5 separate regions of the Homo sapiens genome follow, and regions 1, 3, 4 and 5 are each linked to region 2. The links come from fine-mapping of genetic effects on gene expression. A gene starts in region 2. Each other region holds a variant in brackets. All regions are shown on one strand. Distances are from middle to middle.

Evidence for each region. PIP is the estimated chance that this variant, and not a neighbour inherited with it, causes the effect.
Region 1: its variant is the best candidate, but not a certain one, in a credible set for the expression of DLEU1 in tibial nerve (GTEx, PIP 0.82).
Region 3: its variant is the best candidate, but not a certain one, in a credible set for the expression of DLEU1 in tibial nerve (GTEx, PIP 0.62).
Region 4: its variant is the best candidate, but not a certain one, in a credible set for the expression of DLEU1 in whole blood (INTERVAL, PIP 0.90).
Region 5: its variant is the best candidate, but not a certain one, in a credible set for the expression of DLEU1 in whole blood (INTERVAL, PIP 0.77).

What each region holds. Positions count from the first base shown.
Region 1 is chr13:50,599,899-50,606,049 of GRCh38, forward strand. No RefSeq gene overlaps it. Among named protein-coding and RNA genes, the nearest start is that of DLEU1-AS1, 76 kb to the left of the region's middle. The variant C/T (reference allele first, on the strand shown) is at 2,644.
Region 2 is chr13:50,079,311-50,085,461 of GRCh38, forward strand. It overlaps DLEU1 (deleted in lymphocytic leukemia 1), which reads left to right and starts at 2,859. Exons shown (of 7, transcript NR_109974.1): 1 at 2,859-3,247; 2 at 3,832-3,884. The region is part of intron 1 of DLEU2 (deleted in lymphocytic leukemia 2); the gene reads right to left. RefSeq lists enhancers at 1,311-1,370, 2,988-3,783 and silencers at 2,003-2,297, 2,161-2,380, 2,781-2,830.
Region 3 is chr13:50,670,500-50,676,650 of GRCh38, forward strand. No RefSeq gene overlaps it. Among named protein-coding and RNA genes, the nearest start is that of DLEU7-AS1, 130 kb to the right of the region's middle. The variant T/G (reference allele first, on the strand shown) is at 3,233.
Region 4 is chr13:50,151,274-50,157,424 of GRCh38, forward strand. The region is part of intron 2 of DLEU1 (deleted in lymphocytic leukemia 1); the gene reads left to right. Among named protein-coding and RNA genes, the nearest start is that of DLEU2, 29 kb to the left of the region's middle. RefSeq lists an enhancer at 1,745-1,794. The variant T/C (reference allele first, on the strand shown) is at 3,043.
Region 5 is chr13:50,099,452-50,105,602 of GRCh38, forward strand. All of the region lies in intron 1 of DLEU2 (deleted in lymphocytic leukemia 2), which reads right to left. All of the region lies in intron 2 of DLEU1 (deleted in lymphocytic leukemia 1), which reads left to right. It also overlaps the pseudogene RPL18P10. Among named protein-coding and RNA genes, the nearest start is that of DLEU1, 20 kb to the left of the region's middle. The variant G/T (reference allele first, on the strand shown) is at 2,941.

The DNA.
Region 1 (6,151 bases), 520 kb after region 2:
CTTTAATCTTAAAAACAATCTGTGCAATGATTATTGATATCTTCAATACATCAAAGTAAACTGGAGCTAAGAAAATGTACCATTAAATTACTACTGTTATAAAAGCAATTTTGATAGATGGTATTATTTCTCCCAAGTTTGTGTCTCTTTCCTAGTAGAAATACTATCTATCCTCGTCCTTTGCCATATGGTTATCTGTGCCTCCCAGGTGAAGGAATGTAGTTCACCAGATTGCTGACAAGCATGTGTGCTTTGTAATAAGGCCTTCTGGTGAGACGGTTTAATTCCAAAGAGCACTTTTAGTGGAGGAAAGATTTTGGCCCCATCTGATCTACCAAGGTCCAGTACCACCCCTGGAAACTAGATATGTTCTTATGTATCTACCATTTTCTTTCAAGTCATCTGTTCTCAACCTGCTAGGAAAGAGTGAACACAAAAGCGAAACTGAGTAATTATACTGAAAATTCATATTGGGGCGCTTTTATAAAAGTGACACCACGTTTAACTATACTACTGGAGAAATGGTGTGCTTTCAGGTAAAATTATTTCCAGGGGTTTGTAGGTACAACTTGAAGATTCTAAGCCTTGGAAGAAAGAGTTAAGTCCCAAATTCACTTCCTCCACTCCTTTTGAGGCATTTCTGAAATTAAACATTTTCCCAAGTTCTGCATAAAATCAGAAAAGGTCTATTGTTACTAAAGAGGAAAAGGAGATTGCTCAGAAGTTGTTTTCCAGCCTTACACAGAGCAAAGGGCCTGGTGAGAGATGATTGTTTTGTCAGGATTCTGAAGCCTTTTTGGAATAAGACAAAAAGACAAAACAAGGTTAGGGTAGGAGGTGGCCTAAATAAAGAGGATATAATGCTAAGTAAATAGAGCTGAAAGTCAGGAACCAAATGAAACAAGGACAGTCAAAACAATCAGGGGGACTTGCTGAAACCAGCCAAACAACAACAAACAGCTAACAATATGGAAATGAGCCTTTTAGAGGAAAACTCCAAGCTATGCTACACTATCCTGACTGTCCTTTCATGACAACATGAAACTAGTATCCCAGAAAGATGTAATATATGGCATCTGAAATGGCAGGAGTTGGAGTTTCCATGGTGAAAATAGTTCACTTGTCTCAGGCTTTACTCACCAAGAACAAAATTATGCCAGTCTTGGTTTCTTATGTCAGCTGGGTCTATATCTACGATGGACCAAAGAGCTTTGTTCTTGGACTCTTTAGGCAAGTCCTTGGTGCTTATGGTTAGGGTCCCTGTGGCAGAGTCCTGGTAGAAAGGATGTCCCTCCAAATTCATATCCTATTTTTAAAGAATTTTATTGGGGACCCTGTAGATCAACATTGTGTATTTTATATTTTATTGATGAAGAGCCTGAGAGCTAGAGAGGTTATGCTGTTTTCAAGGTATTATTTGAACATCTCTTTGCATATTGCAGCAATAGAATTGCTACAATAGGTCTAGATATTGACCTAGAGTGATCAAGAACATTGTGTTAATGAATATCCATACATCTATGTATGACAACATGTCAAATGAAAAAAATAAGTTGGATATAAAATTGATTCCAACTAAGTTAAACATATATTATATCCAGAGAATAAAGACTGAAAAGAAATAACACCAAAACATTAAAAGTGGTGCTCTGTGAGAGTGGGATTACAGGAAACTATTATTTTTCTTTGTTCTCTGTTTTCCAAATTTTCCAAAGTGAATATGTGTTACTTTTTTAAATTGGAAAAATAAACATTAGCAAGTTGTAAGTTTTATAAAAGAATAAAATTGTACATAAATATTATCAACCCAAAATGGTGGAAGACAGTCAAACGAGGCTATGGAAGCTGTGTAAGAATCAGTAAAAACCAATGCCTCCCAGAGGAATAGACACAGACTATTTTCATGTATTTGTCTGAAGGTGTCCAGGCCTGCTAGGAGAGGGTTTTATTTTTTGTTTTGTTTTGTTTTATTGAGACAAGGTCTTACTCTGTCGCCCAGGCTGGAGGGCAGTGGTGCAATCTCTGCTCACTGCAACCTCCACCTCCCGAGTTCAAGCGATTCTCCTGCCTCAGCCTCCAGAGTAGGTGGGATTACAGGAGCCCACCACCACGCCCGGCTAATTTTTGTATTTTAAGTAGAGACGGGGTTTCATCATGTTGGTCAGGACTGGGCTGGTCTCGAATTCCTGACCTCAAGTGATCCACCCACCTAGGCCTCCCAAAGCCCTGGGATTACAGGTATGAGCCACTGCACCTGGCCTGGGAGAGGGTTTTAACCAGGTGATCAAGCTACTCAAATATTCTGCAAAAACAGAGACTTTAAGGCTCAAAATATAAAAGGTGAGGGAGGACAAACTCCCTGAAGATGAGGGTGGCATTGTAAGATGCCTCTATGAAGGTGCTAAGAGCTGCAGGACTTCTCTCCACTGAGAGCCAATCACAATCCCAAAAGACACAATCTCCAACATTGTAATCTCAAATGTTGAAATCCCAAAAATATCGAAATCTTAAAAATATCGTTCTGGAAAAAAATATTAAAATATTCCTTAAAATATATTTATTCACACTTTAAAGGGGAACTAACTTGAGAAACACGTAGAAACACCACAGAAAACTTCATAGGCCACTTTGCACAATAAGATA[C/T]GCAATAATAACATACATATTTTTGCCAGCATAAGCACAGGTACACTAACAATAGCAGCATGGATATAACAGTTACTAGTAGATGAGCCATATTCATAAAGAAATAGGTCAAAAAGCAAAATGTGTAAATGCATATCATTATGGTTGGTAATGGCGTGTACCCAGCTTCATAACTGAGTTCATCTGAAATCAAAAGCTGAGATGGTCACCACTGCATATGCAATCGCTCAAAGAGCCAAGATCTTGAGACGTTTTATCTTTCACAAACACAGATGTACTAAAAGGATGTCTCTTCATTTACTGAGGAGATAATTAATGTAAAAACATTGTGCATGTTTTTACATGCCACACAAGTCTTACATACAAAGTCAATATTGCGATAATGCACTTTTGTAAAGTTGAATTTGCAAAATATGCATGAAACAAATTAAAACTCTAAAGTCTCTAAACATCTTTACCTCTATTGTTGGAAATTATGCAGAGATGTAATACGCTACACAGTGAATTGTAAAACATAGTGCCGATAATTTTAAAAAGTCAAAAAAAAATTAAACAAAGGAAAAGCAAAAAGAAAAAACAAAAAAGCCCTAAAAAAATTTTTAAAAGTTTGACATATGAAAAAGTATATTACAGGGATAGATTATGGGCAATTTCAAGGAGATGGTACATAGCAGCTGGCCAGCTTTCGCGATCATTACCTTTTTTGTTTGTTAGTTTTTGAGACTAAGTCTTGCTCTGTCACCCCAGCTGGAGTGCAGTGGCATGATCAAGACTCACAGCAGCCTTGAACTCCTGGGCTCAAGTGATCCTCCCACCTCAGCCTCCTGAGTAGCTGGAACTATAGGCATGTGCCACCATGCTTGGTTAATTTTTGTTTTTTATTTTTTGTAGAGACAGGGTCTTACTATGTTGCCCAGGCTGGTTTCAAACTCCCGGCGTCAAGTGATCCTCCCACCTTAGCCTCCCAAAGTGCTGGGATTACAGACATGAGCCACCACACACAGTCTGATTAACTACATTTTGAAGGCTTGCATCATGATGAGTAGCTGCTTTCTTTCTTTAGGGATATGGCTGTTCTTTGGAGAATATGTTCACATTCATTTTCTCTGTGGCACTGCTCTTTTTGAAATTCTTCTATGATTTGTTATATACCGACTTGGGCATCCCATATTGCATTTTCCCATCTTCTGTTTAGGGATTTTGATCTTTGGGTATTTCGACATTCAGGATGATGGTGTTAGGGATTATGTCTTTTGGGATTATGATCCAAACTCCCCTCCACCTCCTCAGGCACAGGGCTGGCCCCATCCATGCATCAATGGGCACTCATATCTGGTTGAGTGTAAATTAAGATGTAACTGGAGAAATCCATGTTCTGTGCCAGTTGTGATCTGCACTAGCTCTCCCTTTTCCATCTCAAGGCAATTCTGCCTGGGTTTCCTGCCTAAAGTCACATAGTCGGGAGCTAATAGAGTTGGCCCCCAAACAAAGCTTCTCAACTCCTAGTTCTCTACTGCTTTCCACCAACACATGCTCCCCTCTTTTAAGTCATTCAGTTTCCGATATGTGGATTTTGTGCCTGAAAGCAAACTTTGAATTTTGGGGTGCCAAGTGTAGTCCTAAACATAGGTAGGATAGAATTATGTGGTGTAATAAAAGCCCCAAAATTCCATTGATCCAAAATATTTTTTTCATGTGTGAAACTAAATGCCTGAAAATTTGCCTTAGGAAACAACTCATTCCTTTGGGTGAAAATTCTTGGTTTCATAGAGTTCTTTATGTTAAGGATACATAGGAGAATCACTGGACAAGTAATAAGGGTCATGGAGTCTCCTCTGGCCCATTATGTGCAATCGAGCAAGTAGTTTAAACTCTTCGGGTCTGTTTTGTCATCTGTCAAAACTTGTAACTACTTCTTAGTTATCAGCCTGTAAGTGAGAATTAATTCATGAGATTTTTCTTTCAGTCTAGCTACTACAGAAGAAAGGGGCTTTGGATGTTTTAACAGGGGAAATTAAAAGGAGAGCTCTGAAGCATGAGCTACTCTTCACTGGATGCAGATTCAGGTGGGAGATTGGAGAGGGCAGCCCTCAAAGCTGGGGGTCCAGGAGAGATGGGAGGGCCCCACATGGAAATGCTGATTGGATCATGTTGTTTTGCACTTTTTACCATGAAGACAGGCAGACTGCCTTCTCATTTCCTCCTCTTACTACCTAACAAAGTTTGCACTTAACAAACGTCCAGGCTGGGTGCTGTGGGTCACGCCTGTAATCCTGGCACTTTGGGAGGCCAAGGTGGGCAGATCACGAGGTCAGGAGATCAAGACCATCCTGGCCAACATGGTGAAACCCATCTCTACTAAAAATACAAAAATTAGCTGCGTGTGGTGGTGCATGCCTGTAATCCCATCTACTTAGGAGGATGAGGCATGAGAATCACTTGAACCCAGGAGGCGGAGCTTTCAGTGAGCCGAGATTACGCCACTGCACTCCAGCCTGGCAACACAGCAAGACTCCATCTAAAAAAAAACAAAAAAAAAACTTAAATTTATTAGACTTCCCCATAGTAATTGCACCCAGAGCCTGACTATAGGATTGGAGAACATGGATCAAACCCATGCTTCATGCACTCATAAGTTAAGGGAACGTTGATGAGGTTTCTCTCTTCTCTCTGGCATAATTGTACCTCACTGTTTGGTGAATGTCCTCTCTCAGGACACTCCTGATCCTGTTTTTCCAAAGCATCCTTTGTTCTTTAGTCCAGGACTTTCTTACCTTGTCATTTTCCAATCTATTCCTTAGGAGAGTCTATACTTCCCAAGCACACAAAGACTGATTCAGGCCTATACAGGTCCCTTGTACCTGCTGTTTAGCATGGTCACTGGGGCTAGTTGGGCCCCATCCTATGGTAGAGTTAAGGTTGCCAGCAGCTTGAAGGGGAGGGAAAGGGGACAGTCAGACTTGAGATGATGGAGAAAGTACATAATTAGCCTCCAATTAATGAAGAATTGCCTGTCTTAGCTGCATTCTCATGTTCTCGAGTTAAACACATTTTTACCCAGAGAATCAGAGTCTCCTAAGAAACATAAGATTATCAATGAGTGGTTTGGGCCAATGCGGGCCCTTCCCAGACCAGATAGATTATCCATTTCCTTCTTGTTGGATATAGACTTTTTTTTTTTTTTTTTTGAGACGGAGTCTTGCTCTGTTGCCCAGGCTGGAGTGCAATGGCATGATCTTGGCTCACTGCAACCTCCAGCTCCCTGGTTCAAGTGATTCTCCTACCTCAGCCTCCTGAATAGCTGGGATTACAGACACATGTCACCATGCCCAGCTAAATTTTGTATTTTTAGTAGAGACAGGGTTTCACTATGTTGGCCAGGATGGTCTTGAACTCCTGACATCATGATCCGTCCACCTTGGCCTCCCAAAGTGCTGGGATTACAGGTGTGAGCCACCACGCCTGGCTGGATATAGACCTTTATATTTATAGAAAGTATTCTAAAAGT
Region 2 (6,151 bases):
CTATAAGCTTCAAAATTTAACTACTATTCATAAAAGAATATAAACGTCTATTAAATTAAAACAATTGTTTCTCAAAGCATCTACAGCTGTTTATCAGTTAGTTTGCCGCTGTTCTTTGAAAACGACACCTGCCTTTTATCAAGATGCAATTAAATGGAATGACAAGCTCGGTAATAAATGGAAATATACTGAGGCTGTCTCAGGCAACATCGAACAAAAATCAACTGAAAATCAACCAGATAAAAAACAGCACACCCACACTGTTGTATACAATATATTTCTTCATAATGAATTTATCAAAGGAACTAAATAATAGATACGCACCTGTGCTTACCTGTTGTCTAAATTAAGAAACATAAATGTTTTGTAAATTAAAGTTTTAGTTCACTGCAGTTACTGAATTAGCAAAATGTATATTTTCACTAGATGCGAAAAGTTTTTTAAATAAGATGTTCAATTTTTATGGAAAATGTTAAAAAGATCATTCGTGAACCTTAAGAAAATTAGTTTCTTTGCATCAAAATAAAAGAAACAACTGTCCGGTAATCTGCATCCAACAAATATATGTAGTTTAAGGTGAAAAATTCCTATCAAAGGAAAAAAACTAAATTTTTCACTCAGTTTTTAACCAATAAAGAACAGTGACAAATATATAAAAGTCTTGTTAATTTCAACCAGCAGAAACATAATTTTGCGAAAACAGCCTCTTCAGTTTTACTTTTAATATACATTTGAGAACCACACGAAAATCCTTTCTGAGAGGAAAAAAAACTATTAAAAACCAACTTTTTTTCTAAACTCTCGTCCTAACGTTTCGTAGCTATTTCCGTGGTTCTCTGGCTAAAAGTATATTTTTTCGTAAAGTCGAGAATTATAGTTTAGCGTTCAACATTCAAACCCCCCAGGCCCGCTTCCTTCCAGCCAATCAGGGGGTAACAAGTCCAGAGTTTAGGGAGCTCCGTTAGACACAATTTGAAAAACATCACATTGCACTCTTCTATTCTCCTCCGGGAAACATTCTAAGCGAGGGCGGGTCCCCCAGTCTTCATAGAATATAAGAAATAAATCAATCGTTACATCAATTCCACGGGGAAAAACTCTGTAGGCAGGCAGTCCTAAAGAAGCGTGTCACCGCGGTTCCCAGGAAGCGTTATTCCTCTTTGCGAACAACTGAACAGAATAGCTGCTGCAGAAAGCATCTCCGGAATATTTGCAACCCAGAGCCGTGCGCCCCACACGCAATACACCGGCAAAGGGTTAATCTAGTGGTGCCTCCAGCGCGGAAAAGAACTCAAGATCTAATACATCCTTAACGCGGGATTTTTACAAAGGCCATAGAAGTATTACCTAAAGTTAATGCCGTCACTGGCTCACATCACTCAAGAGCTGTGGAGTAAGAATTGATAGAAACCACCAGCTAAGGGGGAAAAAAAAAATCACCGAAGGGAAAGACAAATAACAACTCTCGTCCCTCCTCCTCAGCGTCAAGAAAAGGTGGGGATCGCAAAATTACCGTTAAGTTGTCCGGGTAAAGACTTTTGGGGGAGGAAAACATTAATAGTTTCACAGATTGCTTTTTTCCTTGCGACATGTTTCAAACACCGGAGAAGAAAAAAGTCTTCTAAGAAAGTGCGACTCGGAGGAAATAGCCACGAGAAGGAAATCGTTAGCTCGAAGCCCCATCTTTCATCTCACCCGTGAACACTCCTCCCCTTTGAGAAAGGACAACGCTGCGAGAGCAAATGACAAAAATCCCCAGAAAGAAGCTAAAGTCCAGCATCTTTCCTAAGAGCCCGCTACAACCTCAAAAGCCTGCCCCTGCCCCATCTTGGAAGCGCGAGCCGCGGCCAGTCCTACCTACCTAGAGACCTCACCGGGACCCAGCGCGCCGGGGGAGGGCAGCCAGGGCTTGGGAAACTCTTTCCTGGGGCACCTCACGCTTCAGCGTCAAAAGACAATATAGATAGATGGGTGCCGGGCGGTGGCGGGGGGGACTGTTGCCACGACCCACCGGAGGGACCCATGACTCCGGGTCCTGAATTTTCTGTCGACCTTAAGTTTCTTGTCACGAGATGACGGCCATCACCGGGTCGAGAAAACGGCGAGAAAAGGCGGCCCGGTTCGGAAATGGGGGAGGGGCGCGCGTCCAGTCCTCCTGTCAAGGAGCGGCCGCCTGCAGAGACCCCGCAGTGCGCCGTCCCCGGCTCCGGTCCCGGGCGGGGGGTCTTGCTGACAGATCCGCTGGGCGGCGGCTGCTCCGCCGCAGCCGGTCCGCGTCCCGCTCAAACTGCAGCTCCCCTCCCCCCACAGCCCCGTCTCTCCGCGCTCCCGCCACATTCCGCCCGCCGCCGCCCACTCGCAGACGCCCAAGTTGCCCCTAACCCTACTTCCTCGGATTTTTCGCGATTAAGTGAGAGTAGACCCCGCGCCCACTCCCTGCACCCACCACTGCCTGCGGGTCCCACCACTGCCACCTCCCGAGTCCCGCTCTGCTACTTCTTCAGGCTCTTACCGACTGCGCCAGCCTTGGCGAAGCTCCGCCGACTGCCCTTTGCTCCAAGTAATTTTTGGCGATTTTTAAAGTAATTTTTCCGGCGGAGTCATAGTGGCGCTATACTCTCGGACAGGTTATCCTGTCTCTCCCGCTAGATTGATGAGATCAGGCATCACTCGAAAATGGCGCCGAAAGCGCTGAGGCTCCTCATTCAAATTCGTTAGAGCCAACCCCGCCGCCCCAGGGAATGCCGGGAACGCGGGCTGCCTCCACAGCTGTCAATACCGCCTCTTAACCCCCCTTCTCTTGCTTTCCCGACATTTTTACGCATGCGCAAACTCCAACCCTCCCCCCTCCTCCCGCCAGGCACATGCGCAGAATCATCGTGGTGCACGGCTCTCCCTTTGCTTCTTCGGTTGCAGTCCTCTTGCTTCTTGCGCGTGCGTGTAGCGCTTTTGCAAAGCCGCGGAGGTGAAGTGAACTTAGAGGTTGTGGGGCCGAGGGGTCGTCTTATAGCTACCAGCCCACAGGCATTTAGTCTACGTTGGAGGTAAACAAATACGGGTCCTGCTTAGGAGAAAAGAAAAACGTCTTACAGCCAGTGTCTAAACTCCAAACAACGGAATGTATCAATGAGACCTTGTATATGGATACACGTGCATTTAAAACCGCCCTGCCGGCTTGTAGAGCTTTTGCCGTTCTCCAGCGCTTTACAGGGGTTATCGCACTTAAGCCTCGGAACAACTTTACCAGGTAGGAACTATTACTGTTCTCGTTTTGAAGACCAGGAAACCTAGGCTCAGAGACGTTAAGTAATTTGCCCAAGACAGCACAGGTGGCACAGAAGTGGATGAATCCACATCTGTCAGATTCAGCAGCCCTGGAGTTCTCTACCACGCTGTACGATTCAACCTGAGCCCACACAGGAGGCGTGGTCTCCTTCTTCAACGGTGTGTGTGTGTGTGCGCGCGCGCCTGCCTAGAGTTAATGATTAAGTTTGCTGAAGCCCTTCTTCCCGGTCCTAAGCTGCCTGTTGCGAAGGCGCTTTCATTGAATTCAGTTTCTCTTACCGTCTTAACTTGTTCATAAACTTTTTGAGATAGGAATGGGCAGTTTTTCTGTGTCACTTAGGATGATTTTTTTTTTTAATGGCGTGATAAGTGAACTGAATCCAGCAAAGACGAGTTTCTGTTGTGCAACACGTTGGTATACTGACAGCTACCACGTATTGACTGTGTACTGTGTGCTGGGCACTGTGCTAAATAAATGATTTACGAATTAATCGTGTTTATTGCTCACAACAGCCTTATGAAGTAGGTATTATCTTCACTTTACAGATGAGGACACCTGAGGTTCAGATTAAGAAATCTGCCCCAAAGTCTTAGAACTGGTAAGTAGAAGCACCATATCTAGGCAAACCTGTCTACCTTCAAAAAAAATGGGCACTCTGATAGGACAATTAACGATAATAAAGTTGTAATTTTTTTTTTTTTTTGAGACGGAGCCTCGCTCTGTCGCCAGGCTGGAGTGCAGTGGCGCGATCTCGGCTCACTGCAGCCTCCGCCTCCCGGGTTCAAGCAATTCTCCTGCCTCAGCCTCCCGAGTAGCTGGGACTACAGGCAAGTGCCACCACGCCCAGCTAATTTTTGTACTTTTAATAGAGACGGGGTTTCACCATGTTGGCCAGAAGGGTCTCGATCTCTTGACCTCGCGATCCGCCCGCCTCGGCCTCCCAAAGTGTTGGGATTACAGGCGTGAGCCACCGCGTGGAGCCCTATAAAGTTGTAAATATTTTAAAACCTTCATTGTGAATGTTAAATAAGAGAGTAGATATGAAAGTGCCTGAAGTACTAATAAGGAAGTGGGAGAAGGGTAGCATGGTTTGCATTATTTAAGTGTCTTGGAAAAGAAATGGATTTTAGCAATTTGAGATCAGCAAGAAGTAACGTGGCAGAGTAGTATAAATACACTACTTAATCTCTGGTACTTTTTTGCACTACTTAAGTGGGTCGACTCTGGAACCGAGCTGCCTGGGTGAATCCCAGCTCCACTACTTACTAGCTGTGCCTTGTTGGGTAAATTATCTGTTGGACCTTTTGTAAAACAAGTACTATTAATACCTCATTGGACTGTTGTAAGGATGTAAATGAGCTAACATATTAAAGGAATTTCAACAGTGCTTGGCATATTAGTAAATGTTTGTTATTGTCAGTCAGTCATTGATCTTTTAAACTGGCTTCTTTAATGGTTGTTCAAAAATCAAACTACAGTTAGTGCCTTTAGGGGTCAGCATTTTTTTTCTTTTTTTTTCTGAGAGGGAGCCTCACTCTGTTGCCCAGGCTGGTTGGATCACTGCAACCTCTGCCTCCCGGGTTCAAGCAGTTCTCCTGCCTCAGCCTCCCATGTAGCTGGGATTACAGGTGCGCGCCACCACGCCCGGCTAATTTTTGTATTTTTAGTAGAGACGGGGTTTCACCATGTTGGTCAGGCTGGTCTCCAACTCCTGACCTCGTGATCTGTCTGCCTTTGCCTCCCAAAGTGCTGGGATTATAGGCGTGAGCCACCGCGCTGGGCGGGGTTAGCATTCTTATTCAAGAGCTCCTTAAAATGATAAATCAAACTGACAAATGATTTTTCCCAAATATGAATAATGATCCCTGTTAGGCAAATAAGGATGTTAATTTATTTTACCATCTCATAAGAATAATACCTGGAAATGGAATAGATTTATTGCTTTTTCTGATTGTTAAGGTTAAAAAACCGAGGCCCATCTAAAATATATATAAAGTAAAAATCATCCAAATTTCTAGCATTCAGGGATAACCACATATTGTTTGTACTTTAAAAATATAATGTACCTGTGGGGACAATCAGCTAGGGGGGGTCTGGATAAGTGGTATATTTGGGAGACATGTGTAAAATTGTACTAGAACTTACAAATAGGTAAGTAGCACAATCTGGTTTCCTCACTGTAGAATTTTTTATCTTAGTCCCCTTTTAGATATAATATGTCAAGAGAATTCTAAAGTGATGATGATAAATGATAACATTTATTGAAGACCTAATATGTGTCAGACACTGGGCTAAGCATGTACATGCATTTTTCCATCGAATCATCATGTAACTCATTAAGTGGGTGCAATTATCTCTATTTTGCAGAGACTAAAGTTTATGTGTAAGTCACTTTTAGAAGATTTAAGTCTAATTGTGTTTAAAGTCTTATTTAAGAAAAAATCTTTCATGAAAGCTTCTTGATTTGCTAAAATGGGAGAAAACAAAATCAACTAACATACAGTAGTTCCTATGCCTGAACAGAGAGCCCGATTGTAAAAAACGGTCTTTTGAAAACTAAGAATTTTATATTTGACCACAAGGGGGTGCAAATTCCTGAGTTAAATTTCAAAGGAAAAACGGGAAAAGTGCTTTTACTTTAGACCATCAAATTCGTGGGTTAAAACTAGTAAGAATTCCTGCCTGGAACTTTAATACCCTACAAAGTAATGTACTTTATAAGAAGAAAGAACTCAATTACTTAGGTGCTCAATTAGGGCAGAAGTGTCAGCTTGCTTTCTTCAATACAGTCAAGAGTTAATCATCCCTCCCCCACCCCTTTCCACTCACAGTTAGTTTGTGTCTCTGCATACCCCTCTTTACTTG
Region 3 (6,151 bases), 590 kb after region 2:
GCCCACCAGTCACCTCCTGCTGTGTGACCCTGTTCCTAACAGACCATGGACTGACTGGTCAGTTGTGGCCTTTTTGGAACTGGGCCATACAGCAGGAGGTGAGTGGCAGGAATTGGGGACCTCTGCTTTATCGCAACCCAAACAAAGACAACCATGATGACATCTTGAGTTTTCCAGTTATTCTTAATAGAAATGTTCTGAAAATCCAAGTGCTTACTGTGAGATGCTCAATTCAAAACTGAATCATTACAGGGTTTTACTTTTGTTTTCTTTTGTCTTTCCTTTTCATAGAGGAGAGGAAAAATCTGAGCAAGGTAAATAAATGTAGATACAATGGCCAATGAAGAGTGAGAGCCATAGAGTTGCGGGAGATGAATTTTTAATGATCATTTCCCATATTTTACAAATAAAGACACGAGAGGCCCAGAAACACTGCCCACAAAGGCTCCAGGTCCACAGCTGGCAGGAAGGAGCCCCCTATGTTTTCTGACCCCATGTCCAGCATACACACCACTACATTACCCTGCCCAGAGGGAAAATATTAGAGAGAGTTAAAAGGAAGCCTGGACCTTTTCCTACAGGAGTGATCCACCTTAAGATAACATTCAAAACAATGGTTACACTGACATCACCTTCAACATTGTTCCTGTTGCCTGGGATTCATGGAGTTGTGACTATTTTGGAGCAAATTTGGAGAAATGTTAATTCACTCTCTCTAGTGTCCTGAAATGGATTGGATGGTGCAGTATGTTGTATTGCATGGCTCCTAACCCAATTCCAGGGAGTTTCTTGGGCAGCAAGAGGGCTGAAAGCCAACATTTAATATTTCTGTATCAAATTACATTTGCAGGGTTCATGAACATCTCATTTTCTAATTCCATTTCTCACAAAACAAGCCAACATCTGCCTTTTGTTATTTCTATCCCTCATTGTTTTTGAAATATTTGTAGTACATTTTGAGTAAAACTCCCTTGACAAAAACGCCTGGCAGGCTCGGGCACCGTCATACCCTTGGTGAAAAGCTCATATCTCCCAGCTTCTCGTCATTTCCAATACACCCATGGGTTTATAAGCACCCATAGGGCAGGATGCTTCCTGAGGCTACATACGGACTTTGACCAAAAGGTGGGACCAAAGATCTCTGGGAATTAAGAAAAAGAAAGAGTAAACCAGGCAATCTGTGGAAGGAGGTGATCTTACAGGATTAGGTGGGGACAAAGGTGAGAATCTTATTCCCTTTCCTTTTCACACTTTGCCAACTTCTTCCTCTCTGTCTTCTATTTTTTATAAAGAGACTGTGAGAAGAGACAAAAGAAGTGCTATTAAGGTGTTTGGGGTTAGGGCCAAAATTAACAAGTAAAATGAAAGTCCTTCAAAGATGATCTAGAATAAATTCCCCTGTATCCCACTGCTTTAAGGAGGGCAGAAGGAGAGAAGGGAGAATTTGTTCTGTGTCAGTCAAATGGAAATGGAAGGAAACCCAGCAGATGAAGAAGAGGGCTTCAAGCCACAATTCTTCACCAAGAGTTTGGTGAATCTTCCTATTATTTAGCACAGTGGCCCCTTTATGAAGGAGATACTTTAGGTCAAATTTTTAATCTATCTTTTCAAAATCTCAAATCAATCCACATTCCTTTGAAACAAGTGAGTCACAATTGCTGGCTGGGTCATAGGGTAACTGTGGCCTTGAGGCACAGTTGACACAAGCAAAGGCACCCCCCCACACACACACAAAGAGTTGCATAATGTTCCCTCTTAAGGTCTCATTGCTGCTTCATAAATCCAAGCTAATTCATGTTGCATGGGGTAGAGCATATAATAGAAAATAAGGAAGCACATTTGGAGTCCAAATATTAGAATTAAAATTCTGCCCCTGTTGATTTCTAATCAGATAGACTGTAAGTGGCCTGAACATTTCAAGCCTCAGTTTCCTTATTCACAAATGAGAGGAACTTTATGAGATTTAGTTGAAAATCAAATAGTGACAAATGAAAGCACAACAGGATGCTTAATAGCTGTGAAGGGCAGTGCACATGAAAGGGTCATCATCAACGCCCAGCTTGTGGCTGACCACTCCTCAGGGGCCAGCTCTTTCCCATGAAAAACCAAGGAGTCCTTGTACTGATTTTTTAAAATTTATGAAACATGAGCTCATTGGGAAATCTTGAACAAACAGAAGCTTTCCCACTCTTTTAATTCAAAACATTTCTAAAATATTCATTTGGCCCATTTTCTGGCCTTATTAAGTTAAACATAAGGGACAGAACAGAGTATTGATTTCAGCACTTTCAGGAGTTCCAGGCTTGCTGATCAACACCAGAGACAGGAACAGGGAAGAGGAGGTTGCACTGGGAAGGAGGCAGAGAAGACACTCGGGTCCAGGGAGACCAAGACACATCCTGTAGACTCATCATGTGTCTGTGCACACCCAGTTAGGACGGCGCTGAGTGCCCAATCCCTTCAAGCCTGCTCCTCTCCTAGTTCTCTCTGATTCAGTCAATGGCAGTTCCCTCTTCCGATAGCTCCAGTGAAGGCCTCGGGAGCCCTCCTGGGCTCTTCTGTCACACCCTTCACGTTTGCTTCATCAGCACAGTCTTGGGCTTTACGTTGATGTCAAACTGAGAATCCCACTACTCCTCTCCACTTCACTGCCCCACTCCATCCAAGCTGCCATCCTTTCTCCATGGATTGGTTCAATAGCCTCAAAATGGATCTCCTTACTCTGCCCCCAACCTTCCCATTCCTCTTGAGTTTATTCTCAACAGGGTACCGAGAGCGATCCTGCTGAAGTGTGTATCAGATCAAGTCAGTCCTCTGTTCAAACTCTCCAAGAGCTTCCCCACTTTAGAAGCAAAAATCCTTACGATGATCTGCAAGATTCTCCACACTGCGGCCCCTTGTTTTTTCTGTGCCTCGCCTTAATCCCCTCCCCTACCCCTGGCCTCTCTTAACTCTTTTCTGGCCTCTTCACTGTTCCTTAAACGTACAAGGTAACCTGTTGCCTCGGGGCCTTTGCAGTTGCTGTTCTCTTTCTTGGAATGTTCTTCCCCCAGACACCTGCAAGGCTGGCTCCCTCATCATCTCCTTTCGGTCTGGATTCAAATGTTACTTTCTCAGTGAAGCCTTTCTTGACCACATGGCCTAAAATAGTAACCTGCTCTCCACTCTCGCTCTTCCACATATTCTTTCTATAACTGTTTTCTGCTTCATTTGTTATTAGCATTTAGGATTA[T/G]CTGATATGCTATATATTTGACTTATTGTTTTATTTTTCTTCCCTATAAAAATATAAGCTCTATGAGAGTAGGAAGCTTACATTTTGTCCAGGACAGTGCCTAACACAAAGTAAGTACTTAATAAACAATTTTTAACAGATGAATGATTGAAATGACTAAACAAAAATAAAAACCCTGACCACAGTTTTTCTTTTTTCTTTTTTTGGAGACAGTATCTCACTCTGTTACCTAAGCTAGAGTGCAATCATAGCTCATTGCAGCCTTGATTCCTGAGGCTCCTGTGATTCCTGCCCCCACCTCAGCCTCCAAAGTTGCTGGGGCTACAGGCATGCACCACCACACCTGGCTAACTTTTATGTAGAGATGTAGTCTCACTGTGTTACCCATACTGATTTCAAATCCTGGCCTCAAGCAATCCTCCAGCCTCGACCTCCCAAACTGCTGGGATTACAGGCATGAGCCACCACGGGCCCTTGACTACAGTAGTTTAAACAGAGAATAGAAATTTAACACAACTAGAAGTTTCAGATTAGGCAGTCTAGGGCTCTACAACGATGCCATCAGAGGCCCAGTTTTTTTTTTTTTGTTTCAGTTTTTTCATTTCATCATACTTAAGTAAGTTTTTGCCTCATGACTGCAAAATGGCTGCTGCCCCACCAGACAACACATGATCTTTCCAAAGCAGAGGGAAGAAATGGAATGCAAAATAGGAAATGGCAGCATTTGTATTAGGAAAGCAAAAGCTTTCCCAGAAACTCTCAACTTATATCTCATTAATCAGAACCTTTTGGCATGGCTACCCCTTGCTATAACACTAAACAAAAACTGAATTTTGTTAGTGAGGAATGGACACAGGGCAGGTGGTTCCCAGTATGTGTCATAGAGCATAAGTCTCTGTCACCCTTCAACTTCAGCTCATGCTTCTCTGCTTGGGATAAGGAGGAGCTTATGAGACCCCAAGTCAAGGGAATGAGTTTGGGGAAGCCTTAGATGTAACCGTTGCTGGAGAGAAAACCTGAGTCCTGCTCTGGCAGAAGAGCTGTGGAATCGGACACCTACAACACTTTGGCAGCCATGTTCCCAGTGTAGGAATGAAGGTGACCCAGAGGATCATGAAAATGTCCAGAAAAGGCTCACGTTGTCCTAAGAGACAGTCCCAGCAGCCTTCACTTCTTTGCTTCCAGGTGTTTTGGAGGTCCCACTGCAAATTATTCTAGCTGTGGTGACAATGATGCTTTTATTGCATGCCTTGACATACAGGAGAGACACCTGAGTTTAGACTTGGCTCACTGTACCCTCTGAACCAGTGGTTCTCAACAAGGCAAGATCAGCTTGGAGATTTGACAGCTTCCACCTGCCCCCAACTACAATAACACATAGAGAGCATAGAGCGTCTCCGTGCAAACCCACTCCCTTTTGCCTCAAGGGAAGAATATTTTCAACATCTCCCCAAGCAATTCTGATACTCAGAGAGGAGTATCTCCTCTGGAGAGGAGGCCCCTCTGTTCTCAACCCAGAAGTTTCAGTGTCAAGGAGCAAGGTGACAGGGGGTGGCCCTGTTACATTTTTTTCTTTTTTATTGATACATAATATTTTTACATATTTTGGGGCTACATGTGATATTTTGTTATATGCATAGAGTATGTAATTATCAAGTCAGGACATTTAGGATATCCATCACCTCGAGCATTTATCATTTCAATGTGTTGAGAACATTTTAAGTCCTCACTTCTAGTTATTTTGAAATATATATTACTGTTATCTATAGTCACCCTTCTATACTATCAAACATGAGAACTTACTGTTTCTATTTAACTGTACATAGTACCCACTAACCAATATCTCATCACCTGCCTGCCACCCTCCCACCGCCCTACTCCATCCTTCCAAGCCTCTAGTAACTATCAGTGTCAGGAACAAGGACTTGGCCCACTTATGGTGTGACTGTAGACCTGCACCTCCCAGCCACCATCCTGTCCCAAGACAAAGGCGAACACGTTTGCAAGCTGCAGAGGCCACCCAGGAATGGGCTGTGTGCAGACTCAGAGCTTTGCTAGCCCAAAACATTAATGCTTGCCACAGAGCCCTGGGTGGGAAAGCAGTCACTGGACTTCTTTATTCAGTTCCTTTTTCTTTGCTGAAAGGCCGGAATCCAAGACTTAGAGACAAAGTCTGTTCCCTTTGGGACTCTTGTATGAGGGGCCTACAGCCCTTCTTCAGAGAGGAGGAGATCTGTGCCCTGTGTTTGCTATAATTATAATGACAGGAAGCCAAGAACTTCGGCCTCCTCCCCCAGTGTTCCCACTATGCTGAGGATGGAGGAAGGGACCCCAGTTTATTCACCTCTTCAGAGACCACTTCTCAGGCTGCCCTGGGAGACATCCTTGTCTTTGCAACTCCAAGCCAGTTATGGGCAACAGAAGCCCAGCTTGTGTGTTGGTTTGTGGGGAAAAGGAAAGGTGGGGACCTACATGCTGTGATTGTAACATCTAGAAGCCTTGAGAAAGGTCTCAAAACCTGTCATAAAAGGGTTGGTGGAAAGGCCTGAGAGTTTGACATGAGAGAAGATTGAGGGCATCTAATAAGGGACTCCAAATATTTGAAAGAAAAATTAGGCATATTCTTCAAAGTATCAGCAGGAAAAGCAAAGAAGTTGTTACAAGAAGTTGCACAGGTGTTTTCTTTCTTTTCTTTTAATCAGCAAGAGCTGTAAGACAATGGGACAGATTTCCCCTGAAGGTAGTGAGTTTCCTGACTCTGGATGTGTCCGAGCAGAGCCTTATCTAGCAGGCATGTTGCTGAGTGGACTCTCATTTGGTGGAGGCAAAGGCTGGATGTCCTCTTCCAGCCTTGAGATTCCTTAAAGGTGTGATATCCCCTTTGCCCACCTGCATGTGACCCAGGGCTCAGTGTCTATC
Region 4 (6,151 bases), 72 kb after region 2:
CTGTGCCTGCCCATTTTAACCATTTACAATGTATATTTCACTAGTGTTAAGTATATTCATATTGTTGTGCAGCAGATCTCTAGACCTTTTTCAATACGCAAAACAGAAACTATATCCACTAAACACCGATTCCCTCTCTCCTCCCTGCCAGCCCTTAGGAACTCCCTTTCTACTTTCTGTTTGTATGATTTTAACTACTTTATATACTTCATTTGAGTGGAATAATACAATATTTGTCCTTTGAGACTGGCTTGCTTTGCTTTGCGTAATATCTTTGTGGATTATATGGTAGTTCTATTTTTAATCTTTTTGAGGGAACTCCATACAGTTTTTCATAATGACTGCACCATTTTACATTCCCACCAACAGTGCACAAAGATTCCAATTTCTCCCCATCCTCACTAATACTTGTTATTTTCTGTTCTTTTGATAGTGACCATCTTAATGAGTGTGAAGTGATATCTTATTGTGGTTTTGATTTGCATTTCTCTTATGATTAGTGATGCTGAGTATCTTTTCCTGTGCTTGTTGGTCATTTGTGTATCTTTTTTGGAGAAATGTCTATTCAAGTCTTTTGTACATTTTTAAATCAGGTGTTTTTTTTGTTGTTGTTGTAAAAACACAAGTTTCTTAGATATTCTGGATATTAACCCCTTATCAGATATATGATTTGTGAATTCTCCCATTCCATAGGTTATCTTTTCATCTTTTGGTTGTTCCCTTTGAATGCACAGAAGTTATAAATAATTTACTAAGCTTTAAGTATTGAAATTTGAATCGAGGTTAAAAATTTTCTTGATTACTTCAAACATATTATTTCAATAAAACCACAAAAGGTATTGATTCAGTATGAATCACTGATTATGAACACACACACACACACACACACACACACACACAAGCAAACATAAACCTTTTATTCCTGAACAGTTATAAGAAAAGATTATACTACTTCAGTTGTTATCCTAGAGATTTTTCTTTCAACTATTTAAGAAGTTTGAGATTAGACTGTTTTAAACTTCTGATACCATTCTACAAAAATGTGATTAAAGAAAATGAAAGTAACTTTTACTGTGCAGCGTCAGAATAATGAACATGGTGTATTCTTTCTCTTTTAATCATTTCATTTAATGCTTCATTCACAAAGATTCTTAAAGAAGCAACCACAGTGAGGACGTGCTTTGGCAGGCAAGGAGAGGACTTGCACTCTGTCTCCCACTCCACTGTCTAACTTTGAACTATTAATGTAAATCCCAGAAACCTGAACTGTTACCATTTCCTTGCCCAATAGGGGTAACCAGACCTATTCTCACTAACTTGGTGAATGTCCGAAAAATACATAGGTCAGTCTGATATTTTTGGGACTTCCTAAATTTTCTTTGCTTTTGCAAGACACTCAGATCTATACAGCCTAATTTGTTTTTACGAACACTAGCAGAGTACTTCAGGTTGGAGTTTTTGCCTAAAGAATATAACAAATGGGGAGTAAGTTGGAGAAACCAGAGGGAGCCTGGTGCTTCTGGCACAGGTAACACAGTTAACTGAAGTCTTTTGGCTTCACTAACAATGGCCACCTGAAGCTTGGCCAACCCTCTGTATATGCCCTTTCTCTAATCAGAAAGGTCATATGCCACGGAAGATTTTTCTCAGTTTTTAAAAATCCCCTGGCTGGTTATCCTGATTCCTTAAAACAGTTTTTTGAAAGTAACAAAAGTAGAATGTTTGATGCATTTTATGAGTCCATGGTAAAGTTAGATACATGTGCATATGAACACGTGTTCTTAAGACTCCTGTGTAGTCAAGAGAGCTGAGTGTTCAGAACTCAAAGTTGGCCTAATAAAAGACACCAGACTATAGTACTTGCTTTGTTTGTTCCGTTTGACTGAACCAAATGTCTTCAAGTTTCGTTTTCAATTTTTATCGTAAAAACCGTGAAAAGCAAGGTGTTTGCTTACTGCTGGGATTTGATTCCATCTTAAAGACCTGGAGCAGAAGTTTATATGGATTTCAGAAAGCAGCTGTTTTATGTGCATACATAGTACAAGGTAGAAAAATGTAATGTAACCCAGTAAGATTAAATAACAGCATAACAAAAACTTAAAAAATTCAAAGTTGAATATGTAGTACACCTCTCACAGTGGAAGTCCTGGCTTTTAAGAAATTGCTGCAAGCATTTAACATGAGAAATCTGTGAATGTTCATTCCTAGCAGAAAAAAGATCGGATATGATTGTAGGTTTCTGTGTTGTTGCTCATATTGAGCCAGCTATTCATGTATTCAGATTCATGGGAGAATTTCTAGCATGAGTTCTGTCTGGTATATCACTCTGTGTTATGGTTTCTCTATCTACCTTTACAATGCACATCCTGTTGATTCTACTTATTATGGCAGAATAAGGAAATATATGTGCATTACGATAGTGCTATTGATATGCACTTGATACTCTGGCTAAGATAAACATAAATCAGGTAAAGCCAAGTGTATTTTAGCCTTTAAACTGGGATATGCATTCCCCACCTGCTCAGACTGAAAACTGTCTTGTAGGATTAAGAGGATGGGGAGGGTGCATGGAAAATTATTTTTTAAAGGAAGAGGAATAATATGTAGAGTTAGGAACATTATAGACTGTTAAAGGACCAATGTTTCAATGCAAATGACCTCCAAGTTATATAAAAGCCCTGTGTATGATATGTTTATTGTTATTAGTTTTTAGCCTTTGCAGTCTTCGGAGACTTTGCTGGCCTGGATTTCGAGTTTAGTAGAGTACATTCAGCTGCATTGTGCATTTCAGCTCTATGGAACCGTTGTGCTTCGTCCCTGTTTACCTCATCCTGTGGGCAAGCATCTGCTTTTGCGTCTTACTTCTTAGAACTGCAGCTGGATTTCTGGAATTCTGTGGCTGTGTGGTATTTTCTCCTGCATATTAATAAGATTAAATTGACCAAAAGGTTTCTTTTTTCCTTCAAAAATTTTCCTAATATTTTTAGAGTATGAAGATTATATAGCTTTATTGTAAAAATATTCAAGCAGTATTGAAAAATA[T/C]AAAGATCAATAATAACAACAGTCCCAGAGATAACCACTAGTAGTATAACATATTGGTGATCATCCTTACAGATGACTCTCATAAAGATCAATACTAACAACAACAATCCTAGAGATAACCATGGGTAATATAACATATTGGTGGTCATCTTTACAGATGATTCTCAATGCATATATATTCACATATAAATATATATAAGTAAATATATACATACTCTTACAAAATGAAAAAATACAATACAAACTTTTGTAACCTTTTCCATACTAATCACTATAGATCTACATCATTATTTTAATGGATGCATTATATATATTGTATATAGAATACTATCTGGCACTCAGTAGGCCCTCAACCAATGGTTGAATGAATGAGCAATAATTTATTTAACCAATCTTCTATTAGTGGACATAATTTATTTTCTGTTTTTCACTATTATAAATCACATGGCAATTAATATGTTTTTGCATCTTCTTTGTTCACATGTACAATTATCTGTTTAAGGAAACCTTAAAAGTTGGGTCAAAAGGTGGAAACATTTAACAATTTGATAGTGATAAACTTGCTGAGTTGGCTGAGTTTATGCTCAAGTCATACAAATTTACATTATCATCAGCAATACACAAAGGTGTTTGTTTCCGCACATTCCCCTGCATGCCTACATTGCTGTCAGTCTTTTAGAGTTTGCCATCCTGATAGAAAAATTGCTGTACTGGTTTTCCTTGCATTATTTACATTACAAGCAAGGCTGAGCATCTCTTTGTATATTTATTGGCCATTAGGTATTTCTTTTATGCATTGTCTGTTCTTTGTCCAGTGGTTTTGTCTTGAAACACCAGAGACCTATTTTATCTTAATGAAGTCATTTACTTTTATAATTCTATCATATGCCCCCAAACAGGGAAAGATGCATCTTTTAGGTGGGTATACTGATAAGTGAACTTGTGTGGACCCGTAGTTCTCATTTGTCAGAGGTAGCAACGTAGGGAATTTGAATATTTTTACCTCTAGGTCGGTGTCTTTTTTTTTTTGTTTGGAGATGAAGTCTCACTCTGTCACCCAGGCAGGAGTGCAGTGGTACGATCTCAGCTCACTGCAACCTCCACCTCCCAGGTCCAAGCGATTCTCCTGCCTCAGCCTCCCGAGTAGCTGGGATAACAGGCATGCGCCACCACACCTGGCTAATTTTTTTTTTTTTTTTTTTTGTATTTTTAGTAGAGACAGAATTTCACCATGTTGGCAAGGCTGGTCTCGAAATCCTGACCTCAGGTAATCTGCCTGCCTCAACCTCCCTAATTGCTGGGATTACAGGCATGAGCCACCGTGCCCAGACCCAGTGTCTTTTTGTGTGAGGACCACTACTAAAGTTTTAAGAGATTTCTTAAAAAGGCAATCGTCATTCTGAGGCAAAGATTACCAACATCTGGATTCCAAAAAGTGGGGAAAAATCAGTTATTCATATATATTAAAATGACACACTTCATTTCCAACTACCAAGTACAATGTTCACCTTTATTCTGTTTGTTTTCGCTTTGTCGTGCTACTGAAATATGTGTGCATGTGTATTTAACCAAAGAGAAACTCACTCCTAACCCCATATTTAGTGGTGGGACCATCCCTTATTTAGTGAGGCTGTTTTTTTTCCCCCCAGACCCGAGTTGTTGTTGCCCATGCTGCTGAATTCCCAATATGAATAAATCATAATCATATGATTATACTAAATCAGAGGTTTCAGTACCCTTCCACAAAGTGACAATAAAATGCTCATTAAAAAAAAGAGTAGGTTGTGTTCAATGGTGTTAATTTAAAATTTTAATGCTCAGGCCAAAATGCCAGAAAGTGAACCTCAGTTTCTTGGTAATAATAAGGTGAACTGGCTTCCAGCAGAGAGATTTTGTGGCTTCTGTATCCTGCCGCTGCACTTCTCCCTTCTCCAGCCTCCTTTCTATTTGGTGGTGCAGAATCACCTTGGTCAGCCCTTTGACCTTGCCTGGAAAAAAGTCCTCATCAGTGAGTGAGTGTGAGGTTAGAGTGATAAAGATTCTAAAGGAATGCCTTGTTTTGATTCAAATAGTTGGATTAGTCACAGAGTTACTTAATCCACACACATAGTAGAATCCTCCAGCAAGCTTCTTTGTTTTCATCAGAGCTTTTGAGAGATTATTATATTATATCTCTATCTTTTAAAGATAGAGTAGAAATCCATCTATGAAGAATAGTTTTAGGTGCATTCCTGCCTGAACACACATTTGGACAGTCTTATAATTATGTATCTTCCCGAGATGCATTTTGAGCCATTTCTACCCAGAACTTAAAAAAATATTTCCTATGAGTGCTGGAGGTTCTTGCTTCTCTTAACCCACTAACTTTTTGAAGCCATAAGAATATCTTATTAAGGATTATGCAAAATAACGTCCTACAAATCCTGATATTATTACACTGCCCAAAAAACTTCAAAGCATCAGGAAAGTGTTGTGTTTTTTTTTTTTTTTTTTTTTTTTTAACTAAACCAGATTCAGCTGGCTACCCCACTTGGCTACAGAGTACTAAAGAAGAGACTGAACTTGATCCTGCTGCCCTTGCATACACAACACTCCCATTGACGCTAGTGAAGACTTAAGCGCATGAAAGGATTCCAGGATCAAAAGGTTAGCTCTATGGGGAGCTGTGTCTGGCTCAAGCAATCCATTTTTTTCTATTGACAGTGAAAACGTTTTATAGTTCTTTTTCAAAGTTTTCCCAAACTTTTACAATAACAGGCAACTTGTGAAAAAGTGAGAAGGCATCTAATTGAACTATATCCAGAGGAGATCATGGCAGAGACCAACAGGAAGAAAAACATTTCCAAACCACAGCGATATTGGTCAAATCAATTGTATTTGAAGAATAAAGCATTTGAGGCGTCGGCTGAGAAAAATTTTCATTATGAAACTTGGTTGGACTATGAAGCAGAATGTGAGATAAAATAAAACACAGAGCTCATGAGTTTTTATCTTTGTCTGCTAATGACTTATGCTAGCAGGATTATACTTTTTTTTTGCATTTTATGAGATGTATGAACTAGGAAGAAAATACATGCTATATCTAAATGGATTAGACGTGCAGATTCTT
Region 5 (6,151 bases), 20 kb after region 2:
TCAACCAAGTTGTGGTGAAGAGGTTATTTATGAGTTGCACCAAATGGCCATCTCTGTCTCTTTCCTGGATGATCTGGAAGATGAAGCTTCCTGGCCAGGAAAACAAAACAGCTGTGGTTGTGGGGACCATGTTCAGGAGGTGCCCAAACTGAAGGTGTGTGCACTGCACATGAGCAGTTGGGCCTGCAGCCAAATCCCCAAGGCTGGGGACAAGATTCTCACCTTTGACCAGCTGACCCTGGACACCCTCAAAGGCTGTGGCACCATCCTGCTCTCTGGGCCTCACAAGGGCCAAGAAGTGTACTGGCATTTCAGCAAGGCCCTGGGAACCCAGCATAGCCACACTAAGCCCTGTGTCCACTCCAGGGACCAGAAATTCAAGCACATCAGAGGCTGATGGGCCAGCCAAGGCTACAAAAACTAACCCTGGATCCTCTATCTTATTAAAAAGATTTTGGCCTGGGCGCAGTGGCTCATCCCTGTAATCCCAGCACTTTGGGAGGCCAAGGAGGGCAGATCACTTGAGCCTAGGAGTTCAAGACCAGCCTGGGCAACAAGTGAAACTCCATCTCTATAAAAAATTAAAAAAAAAAATTAGTTGGGTGTGGTGGTACATGCCTGTAGTCCCAGCTACTTGGGAGGCTGAGGCAAGAGGATCGCTTGAGCCCAGGAAGTCAAGGCTCCAGTGAGCCATGATCGTGCCACTGCACTCCACCCTGGGCGACAGAGTGAGACCCTGTCTTAGAACAAAACAAAACGAAACAAAAAATTTTGGATGGTGGGGGAAAGGAAAATAAAAAACAAGATCCAACTATATACTCTCAATAAAAAAACACATTTTAGGCTGGGTGTGATGGCTCCCAGCACTTTGGGAGGTCAAGGCAGGTAGATCACCGGAAGTCAGGAGTTCAAGACCAGCCTGGCCAACATGGCGAAATCTCGTCCCTACTAAAAATACAAAAATTAGCCAGGCATGGTGATGGGTGCCTGTAATCCCAGCTACTTGGGAGGCTGAGGCAGAAGAATTGGACGAATGCAGGAGGCAGAGGTTGCAGTGAGCAGAGATCATGCCACTGCACTCCAGCCTGGGAGACAAAACGAGATTCCGTCTCAAAAAAAAAAAAAAAAAAAAGAAAAAGAAACACATTTTACACACAAAGACATAATAACATTAAGAATAAAAGGATGACCAGGCACAGTGGCTCATGCCTGTAATCCCAGCACTTTGGGAGGTTGAGGCAAGAGGATCACTTGAGCCCATGAGTCTGAGACCAGCCTGGGCAATATGGTGAGATCCTGTCTCCACAAAAAATTAGCCAAGTGTGGTGGTGCACACCTGTAGTCCCAGCTACTTGGGAGGCTGAGGTGGGAGGATAGCTTGAACCCAGGAAGTCAAGGCTATAGGGAGTGGTGATCACGCCACTGTACTCCAGCCTGGAGTGACTCAAAGTACAGTCACTTTGAGACAGAGTGAGACTCTGTCTCAAAAAAAAAAAAAAAAAAAAAAAAAGGTAAAAGGATGGAAAAAGATATATCATACTGATGCTGGCATTAGTCAAAAGAAAACTGGTGTGGCTATATTAACATGAAATAAAGTAGATTTCAGAGCAAATAATATTACCAGGAATAAAGAAGGCCATTTTATAATAATAAAAGGGCTGGTTAATCAGAAGGATACAATAATCCTACATGGTTTTGTCTCAAATAATAAAAGCTTCAAAATATGTAAATCAAAAACTGACAGAAGTGCAAGGAAAAACAGACAAATCCATAGTTAGAGATTTCAATACCCCTCTTTAAATGATTGCTAAAACAAGTAGAAACTTACAAGGATATAGTAAACTCAAGCAACACTGTAACCAAATTAACAGTACAGGTTGAGCATCCCTAATCTGAAATACAAAATGCTCCAAAATCCAAAATTTTTTGAGCACCAACATGACCCAATACGTTGGGTCCTATTCCCAGGATCTCTTATTATATATATATATATAAATGTTCAGAAAATCCAAAAAACTTTGAAATCTGAAACACTTCTGGTCCCAAGCATTTTGGATAAGGGATACTCAACCTGTAATAGAATATATATTCTCTTCAAAGTATACATGAAACATTTACCCAAATCGATCATATTCTAGGCCAGAGGTTATCAAACTATGGCCCTGAGGCCAAATGTAGTCTGTTTTTGTATAGTCCATGAACTAAAAATGGTTTTTACATTTTGAAAGATTTCTTTAAGAAGAAAAGAAAATATGTGACAAAGATCATATGTGGCCCACAGAGTTTAAAATATTTACTGTCTGACCCTTTAGAGAAGTTTGCCTGCCCCTGTTCTAGGCCATAAAACATGTCTCAGTAAATTTTAAAGGATTCAGATAATGCAGAGTATGTCTTCTGACTACAGTAGAATTAAAATTAGAAATCAATAACAGAAAGCTGTCTGGAAAATCCCCAAATGTTTGGAAACAAAATAACATGCTACTAAATAACCTTCTAATAACCCATTGATTAAAATAGGAGTGCAGTAAAATTAGAAGGCATTTTGAGCTGAATGAAAATGAAAACAAAGCATATCAAATTTTGTGGCATGCCACTAAAGCAGTATGTAGGAAGACATAAGCAAAATGCTTATATTAGAAAATATAAAAAGTCTCAAGTTAATGAGCTTCCACCTTAAGAAATTAGAAAAGAAGAACAAATTAAACACAAAGAAACAAAAGAAATAATAAAGATCAAAGTAGAAATAAATGAAATGGAAAACAAAATAAATTGAGAGTATTAATGAAACCAAACCCTGGTTCTTTGAGATAAATAAAATTGATAAATCTTTTGCCACGCTGATCAGGAAAAAAAAAAAAAAAAGAGAGAAGACACATATTACCAATATCAGGAATGAGAGGTGAAATATGACAAATTCTACAGATACTTAAAGAATAGCAA[G/T]GGAATATTATGAAAAACCTTAAGCAAATAAAATTCAACAACTTAGATGAAATGGTCAAATTCCTTGAAAGACATAACTACCAAAGCTTACTCAAAAAGAAGTACAGCCAGGTGCAGTGGCTCACACCTGTAATCCCAGCATTTTGGGAGTTTGAGGTGGGCAGATCACTTAAGTCCAGGAGTTCGAGACCAGCCTGGGCAATGTGAAGAAACCCCATCTCTACTAAAAATACAAAAAAATTTAGCTGGGTGTGGTGGTGCATGACTGTAGTCCCAGCTACTTGGGGGGCTAAGGCGGGAGGATCGCTTGAGCTTGCGAGATTGAGCCCTGATTATGCCACTGCATTCCAGCCTGGGTGAAAGAGTGAGACCCTGTCTCAAAAAAAAAAAAAAAAAGAAAAAAAAGAAAAAAAAAAGAAAAAAAAGAAAAAAAAAAGAAAAAGAAATAGATAACTTCCAAAGCTATGTATCTATTTTTAAAAAATTAATAGTTAAAAATATTCTCACAAAGAAACACTAGTGGATTCTTCCAGACACTTAGGGATAACACTGTGTATACCAATTATATACAAATCTTCCAGAAAACTGAAGAGGAAGGAATACGTCTCAGTTTATTTTTGGGGGCCAGCATTACCCTGATACCTAAACCACACAAAGCCATTACAAGAAAAGAAAACTATAGCCCAGTTTCCCTCTTGAACATGGATGTAATAATTCTCAACGAAACTTTAACAAGTCAAATCCAACAAAATATAAGAAAGTTAATATTACTGGATGAGGTTTATCCCAAAAATATGTCATTGCTTTAAATTAAAAAATTAATCATTGTAAGTCACTATATTAAGCTAAAAAAGAAAATCTGATCATTTCAATAGACACCCAAAAAATCTGACAAAATCGTATATTTGTTCCTGATTTTAAAAAACCAAAAACAAAAAAAACAAAAAAAACAAAAAAAAAACCAAACCTGTTAGCAAACTAGGAATAGAAGGGTACTTTCTCAACCAGATAAAGGACATCTATAAAAATCCTACAGATAGCCTTATGCATAATGATGAAAAACTGCATGCTTTCCCTTTCCCCGTAAGATAAAGAATAATACAAAGATATCTGCTCTGACCACTTTCATTCAACATCAGAGGTTCTGTCCAGGGCAATCAGGCAAGAAAAAGAAATAAATCGCATTCAAGTTAGAAAGGAAGAAATACAACTGATGATAGCCATCATTCCTAAGAGTTCCCCTTGCCTCTTTATAATCCTTGCCTCCTCTTACCTCTCTCCCCAGGAAACCACTGGCCTGTTTTCTGTCACTAGAGACCAGTTTGCATTTTCTAGAACTGATATATGTGGAATCATGCAGTATGTTACTCAATTTTTTTTGTCAGTAATTGGTAGCTTATCTTGCAATCAAAGTTCATATACAACCATTTGATCTTCATTCCATTCCCTCATTAGTCCATAGAATGTCAATCAATTTTTCTTTCTTTTATTTATTTATTTTAACGAAACAGGGTCTTGTTGTGTTGCCTAGGCTGGAGTGCAGGCTTACTTCAACCTCCAACTCCTGGGCTCAGGTGATCCTCCCGCCTAAGCCTCCAGAGTAGCTGGGACTACAAGGGTGTGTCACCATGCCTGGCTAACTTTTTAAAATTTTTTGTATTGATGGGGTCTTGCCATGTTGCCCAGGCTGGTCTCGAACTCCTGAGCTCAAGACCTCCCAAAGTGCTGGGATTACAGGCATGAGCCACTGCGCCTGGACTCAATTTCTGTATGATGATGACTTTCATATGTACATCAACAGGCCAGATAGCTTATCAAGAAAGCTTCTCCTCTGTCTTCTAGTAATATCCCACTTAGATCTGACATTATTTTTTTCCTTCAAGGTATTTCTTCCAAATTTCTTGGCTGTTGTTGGTGACAACACAAGTTTTTGGACCTTTAAGTTTACAATCTTAGGTTCATTTCCTTATTTTATTTCTTCCCTATAGGTAAATGATCACTAAACTTGTTACTTCTTATAGTTACTTCTTTGTAAGGCACTGCAGATATGTTTCTTTTCATTTTTAAAATTGCCCATTTAATTCAAGCTATTAAATATCAAGCTTGTACTATATCAAGAGTACTATATATCAAGACTATAGCCTCTTGATATTTTCCCTACCCTCCCATCCTGCCATACCCATGTCTCCACTAGCCTATATAAAACATAAAATACTTTTCATCAAACTCTCTGTAGAGAAGTGTTGCTGGGCGAATAAGAAAAACCTGATTGACTAGAAAGCAAATGTAAATGTAATCTCCTTTCTTTTCAGTGATTCTACCAGAAAGGAATGAAGAACAGAACCTTCAGGAATTGAGTCACAATGCAGACAAATATCAAATGGGAGATTGTTGCAAGGAAGAGATTGATGATAGTATTTTCTACTAGCCATTGGGAAGATAAAAGGAGACAGAAGATTGAAGCCTTTGCCAGCCATTCTTTCCCTTTTTGCTTCCAAACTCCTCAACTGGGAACCTTCATATGTGCAGTATTTATATTGGATCATACTGGTGATTATAAAAGTTCCTAGGAGGCTAGAAGAGCCAACCAACAGAGAAGGGAAAGCAGTCTGTTCTGAACATAGGGACATAAGTTCATTCATGCCAAGTATCTTTCCAGCATGTTTCTCCCATTTAGAATATCTAGCATGTAAGGCCTTTCAATATTAATATAAGCCCAATATCAGCTCTTTCTCTTTGTATTTCATCTCTTTCTACTCTCCTATTTGTATTTTGTGTTCCTATCAAAGTGTCGTATCTGGGAGATGACCTGCCTTATCCTGTTCTATAACAGTTTTGTTTGCTGCTGTGTCTTTAGAACAGTGCCTGGCACACAGTAAGCACTCAATAAATCTTTGATGAATGAATGAATGGTTATCTTTTCTCTCTGGCAATCCAAATTCACCACTCCTTAAAAATTCTACATAAGATTTGCTGGCTGGGCGCAGTGACTCACGCCTGTAATCCCAGCACTTTGGGAGACTGAGACAGGTGGATCACCTGAGGTCAGGAGTTTGAGACCAGTCTCAACATAGCGAAACCCCATCTCTACTAAAAGTACAAAAATTAGCCGGGCGTGGTGGCAGGCGCCTGTAATCCCAGCTACTTGGGAGACTGAGGCAGGAGAATCACTTGAGCCCAGGGGGGCAGAGGTTGCAGTGAGCTGAGATCA